2 linked regions of the Homo sapiens genome follow. Each later gene encodes a partner of the first gene's protein in a complex. Each region holds a gene or a part of one and is shown in the gene's direction. Other genes may lie near its edges.

Region 1 (3,941 bases):
CCAGTGAGCTGAGATCGTGCCACTGCACTCCAGCCTGGGCGACAGAGTGAGACTCCATCCCAAGAAAGAAAGAGAGAAAGGGAGAAAGGGAGGAAGGGAGGGGGGAGGGGAGAGGGGAGAGGGGAGAGGAAAAGGAAAGGAAAGTCCTTTGCAGCAACACAGATGCAGCTGGAGGCCAGTATCCTAAGTGAATTAACAAAGGAACAGAAATCCAAACACCAGATGCTCTTACTTATAAGTGGGAGCTGAGCACTGGGTACACATGGACACCAACATGCGAACAACAGACACTGGGGACTCCTAGAGGGGGCAGGGAAGGAGACAAGGGTTAAAAAACTACCCGTTGGGTGCCATGCTCACTACCTGGATGATGGGATCATTTATACCCCCAACCTCCGCATCGTGCAATACACCCCCGTGACAAACCTGCACATGTGCCCCCTGAATCTAAAATAAAAGTTAAGGCCAGGCGCGGTGGTTCATACCTGTAATCCCAGCACTTTGGGAGGCCAAGGCGGGAGGATCACTTGAGGCCAGGAGTTGGAGAACAATATGGCCAACATGGTGAAACCTCATCTCTACTAAAAATATAAAAATCAGCCAGGCGTGGTGGCATACACCTGTAGTCCCAGCTACTCTGGTGGTTGAGGCATGAGAATCGCCTGAACCCAAGAGGCAGAGGTTGCCAAGTTGGCGCCACTGCACTCCAGCCTGGGTGACAGAGTGAGACCCTGTCTAGAAAAAATAATAAATAAAATGAATTAAAATAAATGAATAAATAAATAAATAAAAGTTGAGGCTGGGTGTGATGGCACATCCCTGTAGTCCCAGCACTTTGGGAGGCCGAGGCAGGAGGATTGCTTGAGGCCAAGAGTTGGAGACCAGCATGGCCAACATGGTGAAACCCCATCTCTACTAAAAATACAAAAATTTTAGCTGGGTGTGGTGGCACACACCTGTAGTCCCAGCTACTCGGGAGGCTGAGGCAGGAGAATCTCCTGAACCCTGGAGGCGGAGGTTGAAGTGAGCCAAGATGGCGCCACTGCACTCCATCCTGGGTGACAGAGTGAGACCCTGTCTCAAAAAAAAAAAAGTTGAAATTATTTTTTAATAAAATGGTGGGGCATGGTGGCTCATGCCCATAGTCCCAGCTAGTCAAGAGGCTGAGTTAAGAGGATCCCTTGAGCCCAGGAAGTGGAGGCTGCAGTGAGCTATAATTGTTCCAGTGCACTCCACTCTCATAAATAAATAAATAAATAAAATGTAAAAAGGATTGTATGGGCCGGGTGTGGTGGCTGTCGCCTGTAATCCCACCACTTTGGAAGGCCAAGACATGTGGAACACCTGAGGTCAGGAGTTTGAGACCAGCCTGGGCAACATGGTGAAACACCGTCTCTACTAAAAATACAAAAATTAGTCGGTTGTGGTGGTGTGTGCCTGGAATCCCAGCTACTTGGGAGGCTGCGGTGGGAGAATTGCTTGAACCCAGGAGGCGGAGGTTGCAGTGAGCTGAGATCATGCTTCTGTACTCCAGCCTCAGCAACAGAGGAAGACTCTGTCTCAAAAAAAAAAAATTCTATGTCTGCGAGTAACCACACAACTGCATACTGCGTATATTTATTTCATGACAATCCTTCCTTGAACCCCTGCTCTTAACGATTTTGGGGACCCAGTGGTGACCCAGATGTCCTGGCTCTACCCTCCTGGGCCACACAGGCTAGCAGGGCAACAGTGTTTGTGATGAAACCCGGTGATTGCGTGAATGTGTGGGTGATTGACAGTGTTGTTGGAACTGTGAGACACTGTGAGCGTTACTGTGTGTGTGCAGGAGTCCATAGCCCTGGGTACATGACTGTGTGTCACAGTGGATGACTGTCCACCTGTGAGTGAGAGACTGTGGCTGTCTGGGTGTGACCATGGGACTGTATGGGTGTGACTGAATGTGTGACTGTGTGAGTAACAGCTTGTGAGGTTCTGTGACTGTGCCTTTCCATGGCTCAGCCTATGGGATTGTGTGTGACACTGCATGTTTGATTGAGTGACTGAGGCTCTGGGAATGAGTGGCGGTGGGGGCGGGTACCTGTGGGTGGGACAGCATGAGAGATTGTACACACTTGGTGCAGGGGTCCTCAGGACGATAAGGACAATTCAGTAACTGCCCTCCCTCATGACCTTGATGACTGCCCCCTGCTCGGCTCTCTGCCCCAGAGCTCCCCGCTTCCGTTCCCTGTCCCGCCTTGGCCCCGCCCCCTCCCATCACCCCGGGCTGCCAGCGCCTGTCACCTCTCCCAGAGCCGAGACAAGGCAGTTGGAGGCAGCGGTGGCAGGGGCTGCAGGAGCAAGTGACCAGGAGCAGGACTGGGGACAGGTGAGGGCTCCCCAATCCCAGCCCATTCTCCCTGCCCCCCCTTGACCTCTCAAGTCTCTGGCACTCTCCCTCTCTGCTTCTCTGCCCTGCCTTTGTCTCTCTGTCTCTGTGCCCACCACCATCTCTGCTCATCTCTGTCTCTTGATGTCTCTGTCTGCGTGTTTCCATCTCTGGTTAGCTGCTAGATAACTTCTCTTTCCCCTGCTCTGTCTCCCTCCACGTCTCTGCCTCTTCTTTGTCTCCTAGCCCACATCTGCGTCTCTTTCTCTGTTTGTTTTTCTCTGGTCTCTGGCTGGGGGTCTCATTCTGTCCCTCCGTCTCTGCGCCTCTCAGTCTTTACATTTCTGTCTCTTGTGTCTGTGACGCCGTTGTCTGTCCTTCTGAGGCTCGACCTGAGATCCTCTCTGCTTCCGTCTTTCTCTACGTGGAGCCGCGGGGGCGCGGGTGAGTGGGTGTCGGGCGTTAGACCGATTTCCAGGCATCTGCACATCTAACCCCGGATCTGTCGCTTCTCTAGTCCCTAAGTATTTGGATGCTGGGAAAGGGTTGTTCCACTTACTCTGGGCTTTATCTACCCCCAGCGGGGAAAGTTTTGTAAGGTCAGGTTCCTATGTGTGCTAGAAAACCCTTTGGGCTTGGAGAGTGGGAGCTCGGATGGGCGTTTCAAGTTCTCCACCAGGCTGTGGGAACTCAGATGGGCGTTTCAAGTACCCCACTAGGGGGTACTGAAAACCTTCAAGTTTTTCAGTTCCCCATAGAAAAGGGGTCTAGGCTGACGGTTTCTACCCCCTCCTCTCCAAGGCGGTCCCCGGGTTCCCAGGAGTCTGTAGGTCCAGACTTCGGTGACACTGACACTTCCGCCCAGCGTAGCTCTAGGGCAACCGCCCGCTCAGCAAACACCCCCCCCTTCCACCTTTGCTGCCCCAACAACAGTCAGGGGAGGCCGGGGAATCACTTAAGGGGCCCCGCCCACCACCGGAGTTCCACCCACTCCGCGTGCCTCTCCCTCCCCCCAGATCATCACGCCTGGGAGTTGCGGGAGCGGGTGCGCTGCCTCGGAGTCCCGCGTGTATACGGCTCCCCAGCCGTCTGCCCCTGTGTGTGAATCCCTGAGGCGGGGTGACGCTGGGGTTGGAGTAGGAGGGCAGAGGTGCTGACCTTGCCCTGGGACCCTCCAGGCCTGATCGCCCCTGCACGAACCAGACCCTTCGCCGCCCTCACGATGACTACCTCTCCGATCCTGCAGCTGCTGCTGCGGCTCTCACTGTGCGGGCTGCTGCTCCAGAGGGCGGAGGTGAGGAAGCGAGGAGCCAGAGGAGCTCCAGGCTTGGAGGGAGGTATGGGGACGGTTTTAGGGCTTCCGTCGTCAGGGCGCTGTCGCTCACGCCTGTAATCCCAGCACTTTGGGAGGCCGAAGCGGGTGGATCACTTGAGGCCAGGAGTTCGAGACCAGCCTGGCCAACATGGTGAAACTCCCTCTCTACTAAAAAAAATACAAAAATTAGCCGGGCGTGGTGGCGGCCGCCTGTAATCCCAGCTACTCGGAAGGCTGAGGCAGGAGAATCGCTTGAGC
Region 2 (3,600 bases), on another chromosome or scaffold:
GCTGGGAGATGGAATTTGGAGAGCTTGCTAAGGGAGGAGTTTTTCTAGATGGTGGAGAATGGGTGGGTATGCAGAGGAGGTTTCCAGGAGGCAGAGGTAAGTGACCCTGCTAGTCCAGGTACCTCTCATCCCACACGCACACTTAATTTCATGCTGGATCTGCTCCTAGGCTAGGGTGTTCACCTGGAAAGGAAGGTGGCCTTTATTAGGACCTGGAGCTGATAGGCAGAGCATGAGCTTGGCTGTTTATGGTCCCAAGTACCCATGGCGGCGGCAGAGGAGGAGCCTGGAAAGAACGCCTTGGAGGTCTGCCAAAAATGCAATCTGTGCCCTGCCCCTTCTAGACTGAGAGCCCCTGTGGACAGAGCCATGTGCTAAGTACTTGGAGAAAGGCAAAGGGAGTATCCCAAGGAGTCTCCAGTCTGAGGGGGAGACACAGCCCTTAGCCTCAGAAAGCCTCAGTGTGCTGGGGGAACATCGCCTCCAGCTCTCCTCCTCCTCTCAGAGAGCTCCCAGGCAGATCAGGGACAGAAAGCCCCTGCCTTGGAGTGGCTCCTGTATAATAGAGAGGCACAGCATAACTCCAGGGTCTTCACTCTGATAGAAGAGACAGGATGACATACTTCTCTTGTACAGGACAGTAGGACATATGAGGAGAGGGGCTCCTAAATCTCTATAGATAAAGTTGTAACTACCCCACCCTCCTGTGAGCCCCTGAGGTACAAACATGTCTCTTTCTCCTGCTTTATCCTGCCCCTGAGCAGGAAGACAGCTTGAATGTATGTTCTCAGTTTATCCAGCTGTCCCTAGGAAACCCCGATCCTTCATATTCCCTCAACATTGAGCCCTTGGGACACCTCTCTAGATAATGTGATGGGGGCATTGCCACATCACCAAAGCCATAGGCCACTGTCCAGAGCTGGGATTCAGATGACTGTGGACCTACTCTCTCCCACCCAGAAGTAGCCTGTTGCCTTGTGGGAGTGTCCCCCTGCCAGTTAGTGCCACCCTACCCCAAGTCTGTCTTCACTACAAGTACCCTTTTTTATTTTTATTTTTATTTTTTGAGACAGAGTCTTGTTTTGTCACCCAGGCTGGAGTGCAGTGGCACGATCTTGGCTCACTACAACCTCTGCCTCCAGGTCTGGGTTCAAGCGATTCTCCTGCCTCAGCCTCCCAAGTAGCTGGGACTACAGGCACGTGCCACCATGCCTGGCTAATTTTTGTTTGTTTTTTTTTTTTTTGTTTGTTTGTTTGTTTTGAGATGGAGTCTCGCTCCGTCGCCCAGGCTGGCAGGCAGTGGCGCCATCTCGGCTCACTGCAACCTCCGCCTGCCGGGTTCACGCCATTCTCCTGCCTCAGCCTCCCGAGTAGCTGGGACTACAGGCACCTGCCAACATGCCCGGCTAATTTTTTGTGTTTTTAGTACAGACGGGGTTTCACTGTGTTAGCCAGGATGGTCTCGATCTCGTGACCTCGTGATCCACCCGCCTCGGCCTCCCAAAGTGCTGGGATTACAGGCGTGAGTCACTGCGCCCGGCCCCCTTTCTTTTTTCTTTTCTTTTTTTCTTTTTTGAGAGAGTCTCTCTTTGTTGCCCATGCTGGAGTGCAGTGAACTCGATCTTGGCTCACTGTAACTTCTGCCTCCCAGGTTCAAGTGATTCTCTTGCCTCAACCTCCCAAGTAGCTGGGATTACAGCCGTGCACGACCATGCCCAGCTAATTTTTGTATTTTTAGTAGAGACTGGGTTTCACCATGTTGGCCAGGCTGGTCTCGAACCCCTGACCTCAGGTGATCCGCCCGTGTCGTCCTCCCAAGCGCTGGGATTACAGACGTGATTCATCGCGCCTGGCCTACAAGTATCCCTTCTAACTGAGGGCAACTGTAAAGGAAGTAGGGCATAGAAGAATAGTAGTGGGCCCTGTGCCCAGAAGGGAGGAGGAGGAAGAAAAAAGGGGGTACTTAGGGTACCCTACCCACAGGCAGGCCCCAGACAGCAGCTGGAGATAGCCAAATGTTAATCACCAATTAGCACAGTTCAGGTGGAAAGGGCAACTCTATTATGTGTAAAATGGACTTAATGTGGCAGGAGCTGTGGGCTTAATTTCTTGAGATAAGATGCTTTTAGGCTAATCAGCAGGTCTATGCCTAATATAAAGGAGCTGGGGCATGATTTCTTCAGCAGGCTCAGAAGGTCCAGAAATCAGGGGAAGGAGACCCCTATCTGTCCTTCTTCTGGAAGAGCTGGAAAGGAAGTCTGGTAAGAGAAGTGGAGACAGGGATGGATGAGATGACCCGAGAGCAGATGGATCTTGGCAACCCTGAGATGCTCAGCAGCCCTGGCATCTTAGTTTTCTCTTCCTCTATATGAGATGTGAGAAGATAGTCAGGTGCGGTGCCTCATGCCTGTAATCCCAATACTTTGGGAGCCGAGGTAGGAGGATCATTTGAGCACAGGAGTTCAAGACCAGCCTGGGCAATGGAGGGAAACTCGATCTCTACACATAATTTAAAAAATTAGCTGGGCATGGTGGTACATGCCTGCGGTTCTAGGTACTCGGGAGGGTGAAGTGAAAGGTTTGCCTGAGCCCAGGAGGTCGAGGCTGCAGTGAGCCACGATTGTGTCACTGCACTCCAACCCGGGTGACAGAGCGAAACCCTGTCTCAAAAAAAGAGAAAGAGAAATGAGAAGGTAGCGCTGATGTTTCCTTTATTTATTTATTTAGAGATGGAGTCTCGCTCTGTCACCCAGGCTGGAGTGCACTGGCGCAATCTCGGCTCACTGCAACCTCTTCCTCCCAGGTTCAAGCGATTCTCATGCCTCAGCCTCCTGAATAGCTGGGATCACAGGCGCGCACCACCACACCTGGCTAATCTTTGTCTTTTATGTAGAGACAGGATTTCACCATATTGGCCAGGCTGGTCTCAAACTCCTGACCTCAAGTGATCCGCCCACCTGGGCCTCCCAAAGTGCTGGGATTGCAGGCATGAGCCACTGCACCCAGCCTGGTCCATCTTTTGGTAAGATTCCATGTCCCTTCTAGTCACTAACTCCAGTGCACAGCACCCCTCATCTTCCCCCATGGTGTTGCCCCAGGCTCTTAGAAAAGGTCCAAACTGGCAAGGCGCGATGGCTCACGCCTGTTATCCCAGCACTTTGGGAGGCCCAGGTGGGCAGATCACAAGGTCAGGAGTTCGAGACCAGCCTGGCCAATATGGTGAAACCCTGTCTCTACTAAAAATACAAAAATTAGCCGGGAGTGGTGGCACATGCCTGTAGTCCAGGCTACTCGAGAGGCTGAGGCAGAAGAATGGCTTGAACCCAGGAGGTGGAGGTTGCAGTGAGCCAAGATTGTGCCACTGCACTCCCACCTGGACGACAGAGCGAGACTCCATCTCAAAAAAAAAAAAAAAAAAGAAAAAGGAAAAGAAAGGGTCCAAACCTCAGGGCTTTGCCCCTCTCCAGCTTTCAGAACCCCTACTGGTTGCTCTCTCAACATGTCCTGGCTTTTTTCTGTCTTAGCTCAGGAAATAACCTTGGAAGATGGTGGCCACGAAGACCTTTGCTCTGCTGCTGCTGTCCCTGTTCCTGGCAGTGG

Evidence for each region.
Region 2: the proteins of GIPR (region 1) and GIP are in contact, whole or in part, in a cryo-EM structure (PDB 7RA3), measured with the Homo sapiens proteins. Residues at the interface, in NP_000155.1 of Homo sapiens: Gln30, Thr31, Ala32, Leu35, Tyr36, Trp39, Tyr68, Trp71, Leu88, Trp90, Arg101, Arg113, His115, Asn120, Gln130, Arg131, Leu134, Glu135, Leu137, Gln138, Tyr141, Tyr145, Arg183, Ile187, Arg190, Asp191, Pro197, Gly198, Pro199, Tyr200; in NP_004114.1 of Homo sapiens: Tyr52, Ala53, Glu54, Gly55, Thr56, Phe57, Ile58, Ser59, Asp60, Tyr61, Ser62, Ile63, Ala64, Met65, Asp66, Lys67, Ile68, His69, Gln70, Gln71, Phe73, Val74, Trp76, Leu77, Leu78, Lys81.

What each region holds. Positions count from the first base shown.
Region 1 is NC_000019.10:45,665,931-45,669,871, forward strand, and holds the start of GIPR (gastric inhibitory polypeptide receptor isoform 1 precursor), read left to right. Parts: upstream 1-2,290; 5' UTR 2,291-2,368; intron 2,369-3,384; exon of another isoform or gene 3,385-3,546; 5' UTR 3,547-3,590; coding exon 3,591-3,662; intron 3,663-3,941. UniProt on the Homo sapiens protein: This is a receptor for GIP. The activity of this receptor is mediated by G proteins which activate adenylyl cyclase.
Region 2 is NC_000017.11:48,967,178-48,970,777, reverse strand, and holds the start of GIP (gastric inhibitory polypeptide preproprotein), read left to right. Parts: upstream 1-2,181; 5' UTR 2,182-2,261; intron 2,262-3,524; 5' UTR 3,525-3,545; coding exon 3,546-3,600. UniProt on the Homo sapiens protein: Potent stimulator of insulin secretion and relatively poor inhibitor of gastric acid secretion.